Linked DNA regions of Homo sapiens. The protein of the gene in region 4 purifies or fractionates together with the protein of the main gene of each other region. This does not show direct contact. Each region holds a gene or a part of one and is shown on either strand. Other genes may lie near its edges.

The links.
Region 1: the proteins of TMEM183A (region 4) and LETM1 purify together in Homo sapiens (affinity purification with mass spectrometry; one large-scale study listed by BioGRID and IntAct). This does not show direct contact.
Region 2: the proteins of TMEM183A (region 4) and MYH7B purify together in Homo sapiens (affinity purification with mass spectrometry; one large-scale study listed by BioGRID and IntAct). This does not show direct contact.
Region 3: the proteins of TMEM183A (region 4) and AASDHPPT purify together in Homo sapiens (affinity purification with mass spectrometry; one large-scale study listed by BioGRID and IntAct). This does not show direct contact.

What each region holds. Positions count from the first base shown.
Region 1 is NC_000004.12:1,817,420-1,821,864, forward strand, and holds part of LETM1 (mitochondrial proton/calcium exchanger protein precursor), read right to left. Parts: intron 2,054-4,445; coding exon 1,919-2,053; intron 1-1,918. UniProt on the Homo sapiens protein: Plays an important role in maintenance of mitochondrial morphology and in mediating either calcium or potassium/proton antiport. Mediates proton-dependent calcium efflux from mitochondrion.
Region 2 is NC_000020.11:34,990,148-34,994,592, reverse strand, and holds part of MYH7B (myosin-7B), read right to left. Parts: intron 4,360-4,445; coding exon 4,283-4,359; intron 4,218-4,282; exon of another isoform or gene 4,096-4,217; intron 3,856-4,095; coding exon 3,768-3,855; intron 3,590-3,767; coding exon 3,472-3,589; intron 1,492-3,471; coding exon 1,368-1,491; coding exon of another isoform or gene 1,260-1,367; coding exon 1,123-1,259; intron 448-1,122; coding exon 192-447; intron 1-191.
Region 3 is NC_000011.10:106,094,204-106,097,415, reverse strand, and holds part of AASDHPPT (L-aminoadipate-semialdehyde dehydrogenase-phosphopantetheinyl transferase), read right to left. Parts: intron 2,834-3,212; coding exon 2,762-2,833; intron 674-2,761; coding exon 509-673; 3' UTR 1-508. UniProt on the Homo sapiens protein: Catalyzes the post-translational modification of target proteins by phosphopantetheine.
Region 4 is NC_000001.11:203,020,410-203,024,854, forward strand, and holds the end of TMEM183A (transmembrane protein 183A), read left to right. Parts: intron 1-383; coding exon 384-539; intron 540-2,445; coding exon 2,446-2,631; 3' UTR 2,632-4,439; downstream 4,440-4,445.

The DNA.
Region 1 (4,445 bases), on a different chromosome or scaffold from region 4:
GCGTGGTGGTGCACACCTGTAGTGCCAGCTACCCAGGAGTCTGAGACAGGAGGATGGCTTGAGCCCAGGAGGTGGAGGCTGCAGTGAGCCAAGATCACATCACTGCACTTCAGCCTGAGTGACAGAGCGAGACCCTATCTCAAACAACAACAAAAAAAGGTAATAAATTAACTTGTAAAGGTAATTAAACCCATTAATTCAAACCAGAGAGTTATAAAATTGTATTTCTATCATACAAATTTCTTATTTTTGTACACTGCCTTGCAAGCAAAAGACATAGAATCTATTCTGAATCTCAATTTCCTTCACATTTGTTAAAGAAAAATTAAGTGAACTAATTAATCAAGGAAATTAAGTGTCTTTGTTTTTTGAGATAGGGTCTTGCTCTGTCACCCAGACTGGAGTAAAGTGGCATGATCTCAGCTCACTGCAGCCTCCAACTCCCAGCCTCCCACTCCCAAGCAATCCTCCTGCCTCAGTCTCTGGAGTAGCTGGGAGTACAGGCACACAACATCATGCCTGGCTAATTTTTGTATTTTTTGCAGAAATGGTGTTTCACCATGTTGCCCAGGCCGGTCTCAAACTCCTGAGCTCAAGTGATCCTCCTGCCTTGACCTCCCAAAGTGCTGGGATTACAGGCCTGAGCCACCAGTGCCCAGCCTTAAGTGTCTTTTTAAATTCCAAGTTGTTTTTTTCCCACGAGTAAACACCATGAGGAAGAATGGGGAAGGCGAGGGGAGGGGAGGGAAGGAACAGGCTGAGCTGGTGATAAGCACCTCACATCCAGTGGAGAACCCACATGGCATGAGGGCTGTCATAAATCTAGAAATGGCCAATTATTTTTGCCAATTGAAAAATCAGTTATCATTCCCAACAGAGCTATGAAAACAGTTTTTAAAAAATCGTATTAGGGGCCGGGCACAGTGGCTCATGTTTGTAATCCCAGCACTTTGGGAGGCTGAGGCGGGTGGATCATGAGGTCAGGAGTTCGAGACCAGCCTGGTCAACATGGTGAAACCCTGTCTCTACTAAAAATACAAAAAATTAGCCAGGCATGGTGGCACATGCCTGTAGTCCCAGCTACTCAGGAGGCTGAGGCAGAAGAATCATTTGAACCCAGGAGGCGGAAGTTGCAGTGAGTCGAGATCACGCCACTGCACTCCAGCCTGGGCGACAGAGCTAGACTTCGTCTCAAAAAAAGAAAAAAAGAAAGAAAGAAAGAAAAAAAATCGTTATTAGGAAGTAATATTTACAAAAAAAGGGAAACAAACCACCATGGAAGAAAAGAAAAAAGCCACTTTCACGTAATCATGAATAAGATCTCGTCAAGTGACCAAACTCTTCATGAGACACCTTCCCATGTTTAGAAACTAAAAGATGTGGCCAGGCACGGTGGCCACGCCTGTAATCCCAGCACTTTGAGAGGGCGAGGCAGGTCGGTCACCTGGGGCCAGGAGTTCGAGATGAGCCTGGTCAACATGGTGAAACCCCGTCTCTACTAAAAATACAAAAAATTGAGCTGGGCATGGTGGCACATGTTTACAGTCTCATCCACTCGGGAGGCTGAGGCACAAGAATTGCTTGAACCCAGGAGGTGGAGGTTGCAATGAGCTGAAATTGTGCCACTGCACTCTGGCCTGGGCAACAGAGCAAGACCTTCTTACAAAAAAAAAAAAAAAAAGGTGCACACACATCTGTGGCCAGAACGGCACACAGCCACATTACAGAGGATTGGTCCAGCCGGAATGGCTGTGGAAAGGTTACTGAATAAGGTTTATTTATAACGTGCTTTCCTCTCCAAATACTCTTTGGCCAGCTTATCAAGTATCTGACGGAAGTATTATGTATACTTTTGGGGCCAGTACAGCGATTTTACTCTTCTTGCAGTCTCAGAGTCCAGGGAGCAAATCCCACCCACCTCGCTGTAGTCCTGCACATCCTCCTTCAGCAGCTCCAGCTCCTCCTTCTCCTTGGTGAGTGACTTCTTCTGCTCCTGCAGCTTAGAGCAGGCATCGCTGAGGATGTCGATTTCCTCCTTCGTGATCTCTTCCTCCTGGGATAAAAATGGGCAAACAACAAAGCCTGAGCCAAGGGAAAGAACTGGCCTGTTCCCAAGTGACCAGCTGCTCTGTTCATATTATACGGGCAGCCCAGGGCAAGAGTCTCACTGGACAGTCATTGGTAACAAGAGACCCGCGGGGTTCAGGTTCACTGCTGCGCTGGCTGCTGCACGCAGTCACTGTCTGCCCTCATATGCCAAACCCCATTTGTTTAAAGCGCGTCATCTATGAATTGACACGTGTACTGTGAAACTTCACTACAGTCAAAGAGTCACCTCCAAATGCATCTTTGTGCCCCCACTGGGTCCCGCCACCGACCCCCAGGCAACCTCAGGTCCTGCCACTGCAGACTCGGGTGCACTTTCTAGCATCTTAGATAGACGGATCATCCAGCAAGCACTCTTTTTGTCTGACTTCTCTCACTCACTTATTTTGAGATTTGCCCCTGTGGTCGTGTGTTTCTTGTCTTGTTTTTTGAGACAGGGTCTCACTCTGTTGCCCAGGCTGGAGGGCAGTGGTGCAATCATGGCTTGCTGCAGGCTTGATCTCCCAAGCTCAAGCAATCTCCTGCCTCAGCCTCCCCAGGAGCTGGGACTACAGGCACACACTGACATATCTGTCCAACTTTTTATTTTTTGTAAAGACGGCGTCTCACTATGTTGCCCAGGCTGGTCTCAAACTCCTGGACTCAGACGATCCTCCCACCTCGGCTTCCCACAGTGCTGATATCACAGGTGTGGGCCCCGCGCCCAGCCTCTCTGTTTGGTTTTTCTTTCCCTCAGCAACATTTTACAGTACTCCGTGGACAGCACTTGCATATCTTTTTCCAAATTTATCCCTAAGTAGTTCATTTTGGGGGGTGCCATACTGTTCAAACCTTCTCTGACTACTCATTACCATAGTGAAGCACAATTGATTGTTCACACCATTTGTGAATAAAGAGTTTTCCTTTTTCCTTTCTGATCTATATGGTTTTGTTTTCTGTATTCAACTGCCCTGACTGAAACCCCCAAGCTGATGCTGAGCTCAGAGTGAGGACAGACAACCTCATCAGCGTCTCACCACTGAGGGTGACGGCAGCTGGAGGTGTTTCTGCAGATGCTTTTGATTGGGCTGAGAAAGCTGCCTGCATGTGCAGGACATCTGCATATCAGGAACAGATACTGGGTTCTGCCACAGGCTCTTTCTGCAGCTACCAAGATAAACATTCCCAGCTTTTCTAATTTAGTCTGTTAATATGGAAATTACATTTTAAAAATTTTGGCCAGGCACAGTGGCTCAAGCCTGTAAACCCAGCACTTTGGGAGGTCGAGGTGGGAGGATCACTTGAGGTCAGGAGTTCGAGACCAGCCTGGCCAACATGGTGAAACCCCATCTCTACTAAAAATACAACAATTAGCTGGGTGTGGTGGTGGGCACCTATAATCCCAGCTACTCGGGAGGCTGAGGCAGGAGAATCACTTGAGCCTGGGAGGTCAAGTCTTCAGTGAGCCAAGGTCATGTCTGCACTGCAGACTGGGCAACAGAGTGAGATCCCACCTCAAAAGAAAAAAAATTCAAGCCAATTTGCATTTTTTGGACAAATCCCATGTGATCATGATTCTTTTTACAGAATAGTTCTATTTGATTTGCTAAAAAGTGAAATTTTTTTTTTTTTTTTTTGAGACAGAGTCTCACTCTGTCACCCACTGCAAGCTCTGCCTCCCAGGTTCACACCATTCTCCTGTTTCAGCCTCCTGAGTAGCTGGGACTACAGGTGCATGCCACCATGTCTGGCTAATTTTTTGTATTTTTAGTAGAAATGGGGTTTCACCATGTTAGCCAGGATGGTCTCGATCTCCTGACCCCGTGATCCGCCCACCTCGGCCTCCCAAAATGCTGGGATTACAGGCGTGAGCCACTGCGCCTGGCCAAATTTTTTTTTTATGGCTGGGTGTGGTGGCTCACACCTGTAATCCTAGCACTTTGGGAGGCTGAGGCGGGAAGATCACTTGAGGTCAGGGGTTTGAGACCAGCCTGGCTAACATGGTGAAACCCCCTGTCTACTAAAAATACAAAAATTTGCTGGGTCTGGTGGTGCACGCCTGTACTCCCAGATATTGGGAGGCTGAGGCAGAAGAGTTGCTTGAACCTGGGAGGCTGAGACTGCACTGAGCCGAGATGGCGCCACTGCACTTCAGCCCGCGAGTTCAAGATGGAAGGTACCAGGAGGCGCCCCAGGTAGGCAGCACAGGCGCCTGGAGGCTGCACCTCACAGGCTCGCATGGGGAGTCTGAAGATGCTCCAAGCCCAGATCACCCCACAGGAGGTGACAGCAGGTTGGGCCTGTGGAGGAGGCTCTACCTTGAGGGGCCACATTGGCTTCCACACCCCTTCACTGTCTGG
Region 2 (4,445 bases), on a different chromosome or scaffold from region 4:
AGAGTGCCAGGAAACGTGCCAGACGAGGCCTTGGGGTGGTGAGGCTGGGACATGGAGGCCTCATCTCATGGCATCTTTGGAACAGAGAGACATAAGGCCTGAGCCCCATGGGTCTCGCTGTACTATCCCTCAGAGCAGCCAGGGGTACTCGGGGCTGGGGACGCCCGGTCACAAGGGGAACCCTGACTCACAGCCTGCAGCTGCAGGGCCAGGTCATTCTTCTCCTGGGTGATGCTGACGTGCGTCTCCTCCAGTTCCTGGCGCTTGGCCTCGGCCGCAGCCAGCGCCCCTCGCAACCCCCGCAGCTCTGCCCGCAGGGCCGCCAGCTCCTCCTCAGCCTGCGCCGAGCGCAGCAGCGGCTTCATCTTGAAAAAGAGCTTCATCCATGACCAGTTCTTGACGGCATTGAAGGCACGGATGTTCCACTGGATGGTGAACAGCGCATCCCTAGGGAGGGGCAGCCAAGCTGTGAAGGTGGCTCAGTGCTGCCCGTCACAAATGGTGACACTCAGCACAGTTCACTTGTTTTGCCTTCCCAGCAGCCTCATGGAGTAGCTCCTAATAGCTCTGCTTTATAGGTGAGGGTGAGGGGAGGCCCACAGTCCCACAGGCCTGCCTCCAGTGAAGGGGCTCATGAGCCCCCCATGTCCTGGTGGCCTCTGCAATTCCCGGAAGACACCAGGGCTGTTAAGCCACGGGGCTCTGGAGTCAGCGGCCTGGGCTGACGTGCCAGCTAGCTCTGGATCTCTGACACGGGCACCCTTCTGCTGAGTGGAGGCCATCACAGCGCCTGTTTCTCAGGACCGTCAGCGCTTTAACCAGGATAATGCAGAGAAAGTATCTTGCCTGGGGCCCGGCCCGCAAGAGTCTTGGAAGACACTGGGTGCCATCGCTACCCCTCCGGGCCACACGCTGATGTCCTGAAATGGAGAGGCAAGTGCCGTACCCCGTTTTTTGAGGTGGGGAAATGGAGGCTGGGGGACACAGAACAGAACCTTGCCCCAACCAGCCACAGGGGCTGATCTGACTACAGGGCAGCATGTTAGGGTTGGGAGAGCCAGTGGGTCTGGGAGCTGAGAGGCAGGGGACACACCCTGTCCCCAGCCTCCTTCCCACACCCACCTGCCTCCCAGCAGGCGCTGGTACTCAAGGCGCATGAGGCGGCCACGGCTCCGCGCCTGCAGCAGCGTCAGCACCTTGGCCAGGCGCTGGTCACGGAGCTCTTCCAGGACGCCTAGAAGCCCAGCCTTGAAGAACACCTGGGGGCGGAGAGGTAGACAGCCAGGGTAACCCCCAACCATCCGCATGAACCCTGCCCAGTGTGACCGCCACAGCCATGGCCAGCCCTGATCCCACAGTGCCCCGACCTTGGTGTGGCCAAACTGGTACTGGGTGTGATCCAAGTCCAGCGAGCCCAGCAGTTTCTCTGTGGCCTTCCTGCTGTCCATGAAGGTGTCATCCGGGATGGCACTGGGGTTCAGGATACGGTACCTGGGAAAGGAGGGCAGAGCTGGTCAGGAGAGGGCTGGGTATGGGGCACAGGCCACTGAGAATGGGGAAGTCAGGGACTGAGGAGGCTCGTGTGGGTAGCAGGGGACTCGTTCCTGGGCCTCTCCGAGGCTGGTGCAGAGGTTCCAGCAGGGCACATGCCAAACAAGGGGGCCAGGGATGCGTCACCACACTGGGACACTAGGGACACTCCACTTAAAATCCCTGGGGGGTTGGCTGGGTGCGGTGGCTCACGCCCATAATCACAACACTTTGGGAAGCCAAGGCGGGTGGATTGCTTGAGCCCAGGAGTTCAAGACCAGCGTGGGCAACATGGTGAAACCCTATCTCTACTAAAAACACAAAAATTAGTGGGGCATGGTGGCGGGCGCCTGTAATCCCAGCTACTCGGGAGGCTGAGGCAGAAGAATTGCAGAATCGCTTGAACCTCAGAAGGCAGAGGTTGCAGTGAGCCAAGATCCTGCCACTGCACTCCAGCCTGGGTGACAGAGCAAGACTCCGTCTCAAAAAAAAAAAAAAAAACACAACCTTGGGGGGATTTTAAATGCATTCATTAAGTTTTTAAAGAGGCTTTTTACAGAAGGCATGCACTATTTTTAAAATTTTTTTAAAGGCAAAAAATATTAGTAGAAGGTGACATGCTGTACCCTATCACTGAAGAAACATTTGGGGGAAAATTCTTTTTTTTTTTTTTTTTTGAGACGGAGTCTCGCTCTGTCGCCCAGGCTGGAGTGCAGTGGCACGATCTCTGCTCACTGCAAGCTCTGCCTCCCGGGTTCAGGCCATTCTCCTGCCTCAGCCTCCCGAGTAGCTGGGACTACAGGCTCCCGCCACCACGCCCGGCTAATTTTTTTATATTTTTAGTAGAGATGGGGTTTCACCGTGTTAGCCAGGATGGTCTCGATCTCCTGACCTCGTGATCCGCCTGCCTCGGCCTCCCAAAGTGCTGGGATTACAGGCGTTAGCCACCGCGCCCAGCCCATTTGGGGGGAAATTCTAATGCAAAAGAGCCAGGGCTCCCAGCCTGCCCACTTCTAAGTGGACACATGCACAGGGCTGTGTGGGTCAGGTGGGCTACAGCCACGCTGTGAAGGCCCCTCATGAGGGGGACTCATTAAACAAAGCATGCAGTCCACCAGACTGTGAGATGTTTCACAGCCAAGAAAAACGGATGACGATGGCAGGCATACGCCTGGGGATAAGGAACGATCTCCAGGCCAGACTGTTAGAAAAAACAAGGTCACAGCACCATGCGTGTGTGTGCGTGTATGGTATCTGTGTGAACCTCTGTTTACAAAGGATAGTGTGGATGACACCATGACTTCTGGAGGGAGAAGGAACGATGGATGCTTGTTGCCCATTGAGGGAACGGGGAGGAGCTGGCAGCACTGCCCAGGTGCTTGCTATGTGCCAGGTGTCTCATGAAGCCTCGTCCACATGATTCTCGTTCAACTCCCAAATCTGCATCCTTTCTGCCCGCTGCCCTGAGCTCCAGATTGATAATCCCAATCTCCCCCATGACTTTTCTAGGATGTCTGCTGGAGGCATTTCAAACCTGATACACGCAAAACAGAGCTCAAACCAGTATCCCTTCACCTCTCCTCCAAATCAAAAAACCCTGTTTTTGTAGCTCAGTAAATCTACCACTGGTAGCTCCCAGGTTGCTCACTCCCAAAACTAGAAATCATTCGTCTTTTCTGCATCCAGAATTCCATGTCCAGCTTATCAGCGAGGCCTGTAGGCTCCACCTCCACTATTTGCCCCAAGCCTATTCACTTCTCCCCAAGTCCCCGGCCAGGTCTGAGCCACCCCCATGTCTTGCTGGGATACCTGGCCAGGCCCCTCACAGTCCCTGCTTCCCCCTCCAGACAGGGGACCGTCTGTTGGGCTCTGATATGTGTGTCCTGCCCAGCCCCTCAGGCCTCCACCTGGAGCAGCAGGCAGGGGGAAGGGGTCACCCACCGCTGCCGGAAGTCGGTGTAGAGCAACCTGTTGGGGAACCCTTGGCGGCAGATCCGGATCCCCTCCAGGACCCCATTGCAGCGCAGCTGGTGTAGCACCAAGAAGGCATCCATGACCCCTGGACGTGAGAGGGGAAAAGGTCAGAGGTCAACAGGCACACCCGCAGGCCCCAGAGAAAAAGCAGCAGTGGAGACCCTGCGAGGTGAGGGGGAAGATGTACTCAGCCTCCCGGCCTCTGCCCTGTCACCTTCCCATGATGCCTCCCGGCCCCAGCCAGGCCAGCCCTGGGTGACTACCTGGGGTTTTGTTCTCGTTGGGGACAATGCAGCGGACGAAGTGGGGCTGTGTGGCCCGCAGGTTGGTCATCAGCTTGTTGAGGTTCTCCTGGCAGTGGGGAAGAGTGAGGGAAAGGCACAAAGGGGGCAGAGAACCAGAATTGGATGCCGCAGTGGTCAGGACCGAGACGGGAGCAGGGCCCTAAGTGCCCTGCACTTTTGCTCTTTCACTCTCATTCTGGTGATGGGAGACCCTTCGCTGTCTCCCATCACCACCACCAAAGTCTTCACTTCCCTGCCAAATCCCCGTCCCTCCCAGAGCCCCAGGGCTCCCACCCCTTCCCCACAAACCCTGCCCAGGCAGCGTAGGGACGGGAAGCAGCACAGACTTGCTGTGATGTTCACGTGGAGAGGAGTTAAACATCACTGCAAGTCTTAACAGCCGCCCGCCCAAGGCACAGGGGACAGGGCAGGGGGTGAAGGACGGGGCTGGAGGCTGCCAAGAGGGAGGGTCTGTCTCCCAGATGGGGCCTTACCTTGTGCAGCTGGGACACCGTCTGGAACGATGCTGCCTTCTTACGCTTCTCTTTCACCCCAGACTTGGGGGGCTCAGCTAATAGAGACAAGGGGCCTGGTCACTCCAGGGAATGTCGCTCTGTGGGCCCCTGTCAGAGTGGAGATCTTGTCCCTCCATACTCA
Region 3 (3,212 bases), on a different chromosome or scaffold from region 4:
CTATACAACAGAGTACATTAGAACCACAAAAAGTTATGTTACAGAGGTATATTTATGAACAGTAGATGTGCAGTTAAAAAGAATTTACAAAACAGTACGTTTCCATGTTTTTAAAAAAATCAAATATGTCAATATGGATTCATTTGCCAAGAAAAAGGTCTGAAAAGATACTCAAGGTTTTAAGAGTAGTTATCTTTGAAAGATAGCATTTAAATGTTTCCTTTTGCTTATGTGCATTTTCTATTTTTTTCTACAGTTAGCATGTATCACTTTAAGATTCCGCCATCCTTCCTATCAATTCAATGCAATTTAGGAAAGAAAGAGGTAAACATGTATTCCAGTGAGCTATCTTGAACCAGAAGTCTGCTTTTTTTTTTTAATTGGAAAAGTTTCTGTTCTTTAAAAAAACTTTCGTGAAATAAAATTTGATACTAAACAAGCATTTATTTTTCAGTGAATACGGAAGATCACAAACAGTTTTCATTTCCCTTTGTTACTCAGGGAATCATCATGACTTTGTACCATTTCGTATTGGAATTTCTTCTGTGAAGCAAAAACAGTCCCAAAATGAAGGATCTTCAGGTGTCATGGGAACGGCAGATGACATTAAATCATTAAAGTTGAGAATAGTAAATTGCCTCTGGGTTGGTTTGGAATCATCCTGAGATGGAACCTAAAAGACAAAAGCAGATTACCTTATTGTTATATTGCATGTTAATCTTATGATCAATTTCATAATCATGAAAATAAGTAAGACCAACTTACATTTCAGTAGTATTAAATGACAACATAGGATTCCTAGAACATTGTTTGTATTTCTTATATTAGTGTTGCCAATACAACAAATCAAAAAAAAATGAAATAGAAAACCTGATTCTTGAACTTTTTTATATAACAAAAACCTGTGGTATTTTACATGTAGATTTACTGGGCCCCACATCCAAAAAGTGTGATTTACTACATATCAGTTAGAAGGGATATCAAAATCTGTAATTTTAACGAGCAGTCAGGTTATTTTGATAGAGGTGAGTGAGAAAGTGAACTTTTGTGAAATACTACTCTAAAAGGTGGGTCTGATAAAACTGCCATAACTATACAGAGATGTATACTTCTTTAGGAAATTATTTATTCAATATTAAATTTAAACTGTATCTTACTCTCTGAGATAGAGCCCTTGTTCACAATTGAACCCAGTGCAGACCCTCTTTAATATTCTACACATCTAGTATAAATAGTACTTGGGTTTTGTATAGCGCTTTAACAAGTCAAGGTCCAGTACTTATATGACTGGTCTCATAGCTATGTTGTGATACGGTTATCTTAATTTTATGGATGGGGAATCTGAGGCTCAGGAAGAGCAAACAATTCAAACAATTTGTCCAAGCTCAAAACATAGGTTAAATGGTAGATGTGGGCCTAGAACCCAATTTTGTGAATTGTACTCTAGTCTTCCCAACATGCCACTGTTGCCTAAACAGGCTCTGTCCAGGGAAATGAAAAGTACTGAATATGCAAATGTTTCAACAATTATAAAGCTCTATGAAAACAAAAGGTATTTTTGCAGGGAGTGTGAAGCTGAGATTTAAAAACAGAAGGACGAGTAACCTGGGTCAGAACATCTTCAGATAACAGGTGTCAATTTTAACATGCCATCCCTTTTTAAGGAAGATAATCTATGGAGAACTCGTAATCCTTTGATTAATCTATCAAAGGTTTGGTGTGTTGCCTGAGCTACTTTTGTGGAAGTAACGATGCATATATATTGATCATGCTACATTCTTTCATGTTGATTTACTAAAAATAATGGAATGCATGTAGTTTTCATTAAAACATACGTTTTCCTTAAATAAATACTTCTGCAGAATCACAATTATATGAAATCTAAGAGTCTTTGACCCTAAGTTCTTCCCCCACTTGCTTACCAGGTAATAGGATAAGAAAGTATAAAAACATTGTGGCTGAATAATTGAAACTGATGTTATGCCACAATATGACACAAGGTCTCTTACATGTTTGACACTGTAACTTTGGGAATAATTCAGGATATTACTTTAAAAGGAGGAGTGGATTCAATTTGCAAGGTAATTCCATTACTCATCAACCTTCAACGTGGTACTCTTACATTCAACACAACCCCAATTCACCAAGAAATAAACTACTGTTAAGATGACTAAGATAATCTTGAATGTCTATTGGAAATATGAGTAGCATGATAGTACTACCATATTTTTTTTTGTTGTAATACTTAAGCGTATACGAATGTGAAGAAGCGGGTAACATTTCTTTTTTTTGAGACGGAGTTTCGCTTGTTTCCCAGGCTGGAGTGCAATGGTGCGATCTTGGTGCACTGCAACCTCCACCTCCCAGGTTCAAGCGATTCTCCTGTCTCAGACCTCCTGAGTAGCTGGGATTACAGGCGCCCGCCACCACACCTGGCTAATTTTGTATTTTTAGTAGAGATGGGGTTTCTCCATGTTGGTCAGGCTGGTCTGGAACTCCTGACCTCAGGTGATCCGCCTGCCTCAGCCTCCCAAGGTGCTGGGATTACAGGTGTGAGCCACCATGCCCAGCTGCTTTTTAAAAATGTTTCTACAAAATCCCTAGTGATCTTAATATTTGCTAATAAAGAGTACTACTATATCTATAATCTTAAAAAAATCTCTCTAAACTGATATAAGGCAAATGACTATTTCCATCAATAAAGAGCAAACTTAACATTGATTCATGCTATTTAGAAAAAAGAGAAATCCTAAAATCTTACATCCTGATGTCTAGATCCATCGGGTTTCCTAAGAGCAACTGCAACAAAATGGTGCTCATCTATTTTGCTTTCCTGAAAGATAAAAGGTAAATAAATATAGATTATAAAATATGTAAACCTAGATGTAACTTTGTTTACATTTTCTAAATCTCATTCTCTCTCTCTCTATATATATATACATATACGTACACTCACACGCGTGCATATATATATTTCCCCACCTCCGCTAAACTACTTTAGAAGTTACATATGTGCTGGCCCTTTACTCTTAAATACTTCAACATGTATTTCCTAGTAGGCACATTCTCTTACATAACCACAGCAGTTAATAACGTCAGTAAGTTTAACATTGAAACAATACTTTATTAGCTGTATTCCAAATTCTGTGAATTAATCCAATAGCATCCTTTGTGGCATATCCCTCCTCCAGAACAGGAGCCCAGTAATGGGC
Region 4 (4,445 bases):
TCTGGAATTAGGTGGCCACTTCTGCTTCCATCCCTTTTGTGCAGCAGATGTTCTTTGGAGTCTGACAAGTTACAAGGAATTTGCAGTCTTTCAAACATTGTAGAACCTCTGGTAGAGGCTGTAAGTTTCCATTTCTTGTCAGATGGCAAGGAATACCATCTAAACGAAGCATAAACCCATTGCCACATTTGCTCATCCAAATGTATTTACCCTTCTTTCAAAGGGTAGGTTTTCTTTGATCTCTGTATAGAAACATGTATAAAGAGAGAAGATAAAAGTGTATCTCACTAGCTTTAGTTGAGCCATAGGATTTTCTTTGGTGGACTCTTAGAGCCATATAATGTTTCTTCTAAGCCATTGGATTAATTCTCAGTTCTCTTCAGTCCCCTAGGTTAAAGAGCAAGTGTACAGGAGGATTGCAGCCTCCCGTTCAGTACGAAGATGTTCATACCAATCCAGACCAGGACTGCTGCCTACTGCAGGTCACCACCCTCAATTTCATCTTTATTCCGATTGTCATGGGAATGATATTTACTCTGGTAAGTGGGGACTCAGGATGTCATTCTCAGCTCCTTTTTTTTTTTTTTTTTCATTCTGAAAGGAGGTGAACCGCAGCTCTTTTTTTTTTTTTTTTTTTTAAGAGACGTGGTCTCACTCTGTCACTCAGGCTGAAGTGCAGTGATGGAATCATCACTCATTGCAACCTCAAAACTCCTGGGCTTAAGCTATCCTCTTGCTTCAGCCTCCCAAGTAGTTAGGACTACAGGTGTGCACCACCACCCCTAGCTAATTTTTATTTTTTGTTGCAATGGGTGTCTCACAGCGTTGCTGAGGCTTGTCTCAGACTCCTAGCCTCAAGCAGTTCTTCCACGTCGGCCTCTCAAGTGCTGAGATTATAAGTGTGAGCCACTGCATTCAGCTTTTTTATAGATTTTTGCTATATCTGAGGTTTGAAGGATATTTGTAAATTTAACCATGAAGGAAGGTATCTTTTTTCAAAAAAAAAGTTTGAACTCAGTCCTGTATATTAGCAACAGACAGATTTGTGGAGACATTAATTATATCTGAGAGTATTTTACCTTGTTTCCTTCTTTGTAGGAAAGGGAATGTTTTTGCATTTTCATGTGTAGTGATGATTAATGATTGAGAAACATTATCCTATTAGGAAGAATGATGAGATATATACATGGGCACTGTATGTCAGGACCTTGAGGCATGCATATGGGGTTACAAATGGGATATTAAAATACAGGGTGACCAGCTCAGCTCTGTCCTTTGTGTGATATTATCACTGTTCAAGGCTTGGCCAGTAATTAGTAAACAACGTATGTGCCTCTGGCATATTTTTCCAGGTTTTAAAAATTTTTCATTGGCTTGGCAACTGGAGAGTTCATGTAATTTGTCTTCTCTGTATCTTAGGCTTACATTCAGAAATACATGAGGTTCCCCTTCCACAATGAAAGTAGCTTTTTTAAAATGGTAAATGACTTCAAATAATACATAAATATACTGACAAAGTAAAGGTGACTTAGACTTCCACTATCCTGTAACTGCAATTAATCTTTTGGGAACTGTTCTCTTAATGTGTCTGTTAATATGTATGTACTCTCTCTCTCTCAAATAATTTTGTATAATTGAGATTGTGTCATATATACAGTTTTGTTTTGTTTTTTTTGAGATGGAGTCTCGCTCTGTAGTCCATGCTGGAGTGCCGTGGTGCGCAGTCTCGGCTCCCTGCAACCTCTGTCTCCTGGTTTCAAGTGATTCTCCTGCCTCCGCTTCCCAAGTAGCTATCTGGGATTACAGGTGCCTGCCACCACACCCAGCTAATTTTTGTATTTTTGGTAGAAATGGGGTTTGCTCAGGCTGGTCTCAAACTCCTAACCTCAGACAATCTGCCTGCCTTAGCCTCCCAAAGTGCTCATTAGGGAGGCTTTCTTTAGCATAGTTTAAACGTGAAGCTGAGAAGGCCTTATAAAATTCTCCTTAATTTTTTATATCTTTAAAGGTTGGCTGGGCGTGGTGGCTCATGCCTGTAATCCCAGCACTTTGGGAGGCCGAGGTGGGCAGATCACTTGAGGTCAGGAGTTTGAGACCAGCCTGGCCAACATGGCAAAACCCTGTCTCTACTAAAAATACAAAAATTAGCCGGTCATGGTGGTGCACGCCTATATTCCTAGCTACTTGGGAGGCTGAGGCACAAGAATCGTTTGATCCCAGGAGGCGGAGGTTGCAGTGAGCCGAGATCACATCACTGCACTACAGCCTGGGCAACAGAACGAGGTCCTTTCTCAAAAAAAAAAAAAAAAGGTGTTTGTTTTATAATTTAGAGATTAATCTTGTGGCCTAGCCAGTATAAATTAGTCTGGACTATTTCATTTCAGAGTGAGCTCTTGGAAACCAAGGTTGTGTAAGTTGGATACTGAATTTGCTTTTCCATTTCAGTTTACTATCAATGTGAGCACGGACATGCGGCATCATCGAGTGAGACTGGTGTTCCAAGATTCCCCTGTCCATGGTGGTCGGAAACTGCGCAGTGAACAGGGTGTGCAAGTCATCCTGGACCCAGTGCACAGCGTTCGGCTCTTTGACTGGTGGCATCCTCAGTACCCATTCTCCCTGAGAGCGTAGTTACTGCTTCCCATCCCTTGGGGGCAGCCTCGAGTGTAGTCCATTAGTAATCAGATTCCAGTTTGGACAGGGTGGCTGGATTGTATATCTCGTTAGTAATGTACATGCTCTTCAGGTTCTAGGGCTCCTGTTAGGGGAGGGAGAAATGTTGAATCAAGAGGGAAAACAACTACTATGATTTATAAACATATTTTAATGTAAAAATTTGCATTTAAAAGGAGTGGCCCTGTTTTCTGTGTTAAAACCCCATTTGGTGCTATTGAGTTTGTTCTTTATTCTTTTATCCCAGTGAAAATTGTTGATCTTGCTGTAGGGAAAAATTAAACTCTTTGAATCTCCAAACAAGGAAGTTTCAGCATTCCCTTATGGATCAGAGGAACCTTAGAGGCCTGAAATTGTTGCTTCCAGTTTAGCTGCCCCTCAAATTCAAGTGAATATTTTCCCTTCTCCCTTTACCCTTCTCCAGAAATAAAGCAGGTGACAGGGTTTTCAGAATCTTACCATATTGACTTGTGTATCTTTTTTAAAAAATAATTTGTGATATTTATTGCATACATTTTCTTTTGGCAGTTTTGGATTTTAGGTATTTTTTTGCATGAGGCTGATAATGGTGATGATGACTTTATACCCTTGGTACTATACTAGGAACTTTACATAGTATCTCTACTTCTCACAGTCTTGCAAAGTAGGTGATATTATTCCCATTTTATAGTTGAGAAAACGGAATTAGTGACTGTACCTATAACACCAGTAAATGCAGAGCCAAGATTCTGACCCAGGTCTTTTTGTTGTACCATAAGTTTAAAAGATGAGTCTCATTTTTCTTGTGGTAGATGGTGGTAAAAAGGAGTAGGCAGAGTGTACATAGATAAAAAAAAGTAAAAGGGTAAGTAAAAAATTGATTGTGGTATATGTTATTCTAATCAGCCAAAAAAGTTTAGAAGATTGATGAAATGATCTTTTAAATATGTATTTCTGAATAAAATGTAAAACCAAGAAAGTTATTTCAGGAAGGATAGTGACCCTTTCCTTGAACTGTTAGAAGGGCATTTATTAGGCTAAAACGTCATTAACAAAATGCATTGCATGTTGAAACCAGCCTCTTGAACCATAAGCACTTAGCGACTTTGCTCTGCCCTGTACTGTGCTGCTTCTGCTGTCATCCTGTGTGCCTACAGAAGCCTGGTCTTCCGTCCATGCAGAAATGCTTATGTCCTCCTGTTGTTTAGATGACTCCTATTGTTCAGGTGTACTCTGAGAAGAGAATCACGTTTTTCTGTTTTGCTAAGGAGAAAACCTTGCTGCTTGTCTCTCCTCCCACCCTCCACCATCCAAAATTAACCAGTGAGCTGGATATTACCTGGATATTGCCAGGAGGTGGGCATTAAGACAGTATTCTTTAAAAGTGAAAATCTTGTGAGGCAAACTGCTAAATTCACATTTTTGTTTTTTTTTTTTTACCATCTTCCCTAGGAATATTCCTAGAAAGCATCTGCTTAATTTTGCTGCTAACAGCTAACCTTATCCCACGTTGAGGGTGGTATTAAAACTGTTCACACAGAGTGAGCCTGGGTCAGTCAAAAACAGAATTTGGGCATTTGAGTGATAACAGACAACCTAAGGACAATGAGCACTTTGCAGATCTCTACAATTAAAAGTTGCCTCTTTGAGGCAGGAGGGGAGAAGCACAGTCCCTGCCAGGTTGCCTGAACTAAAGATGCCATGGAGCAGGAGTGTCTTGGTGCATTGTTCCCCGCTTAGGAGTACCTTTAAAAAGGGGGTGAAATAAATTTGGCTTAATAATTGTATTCTGA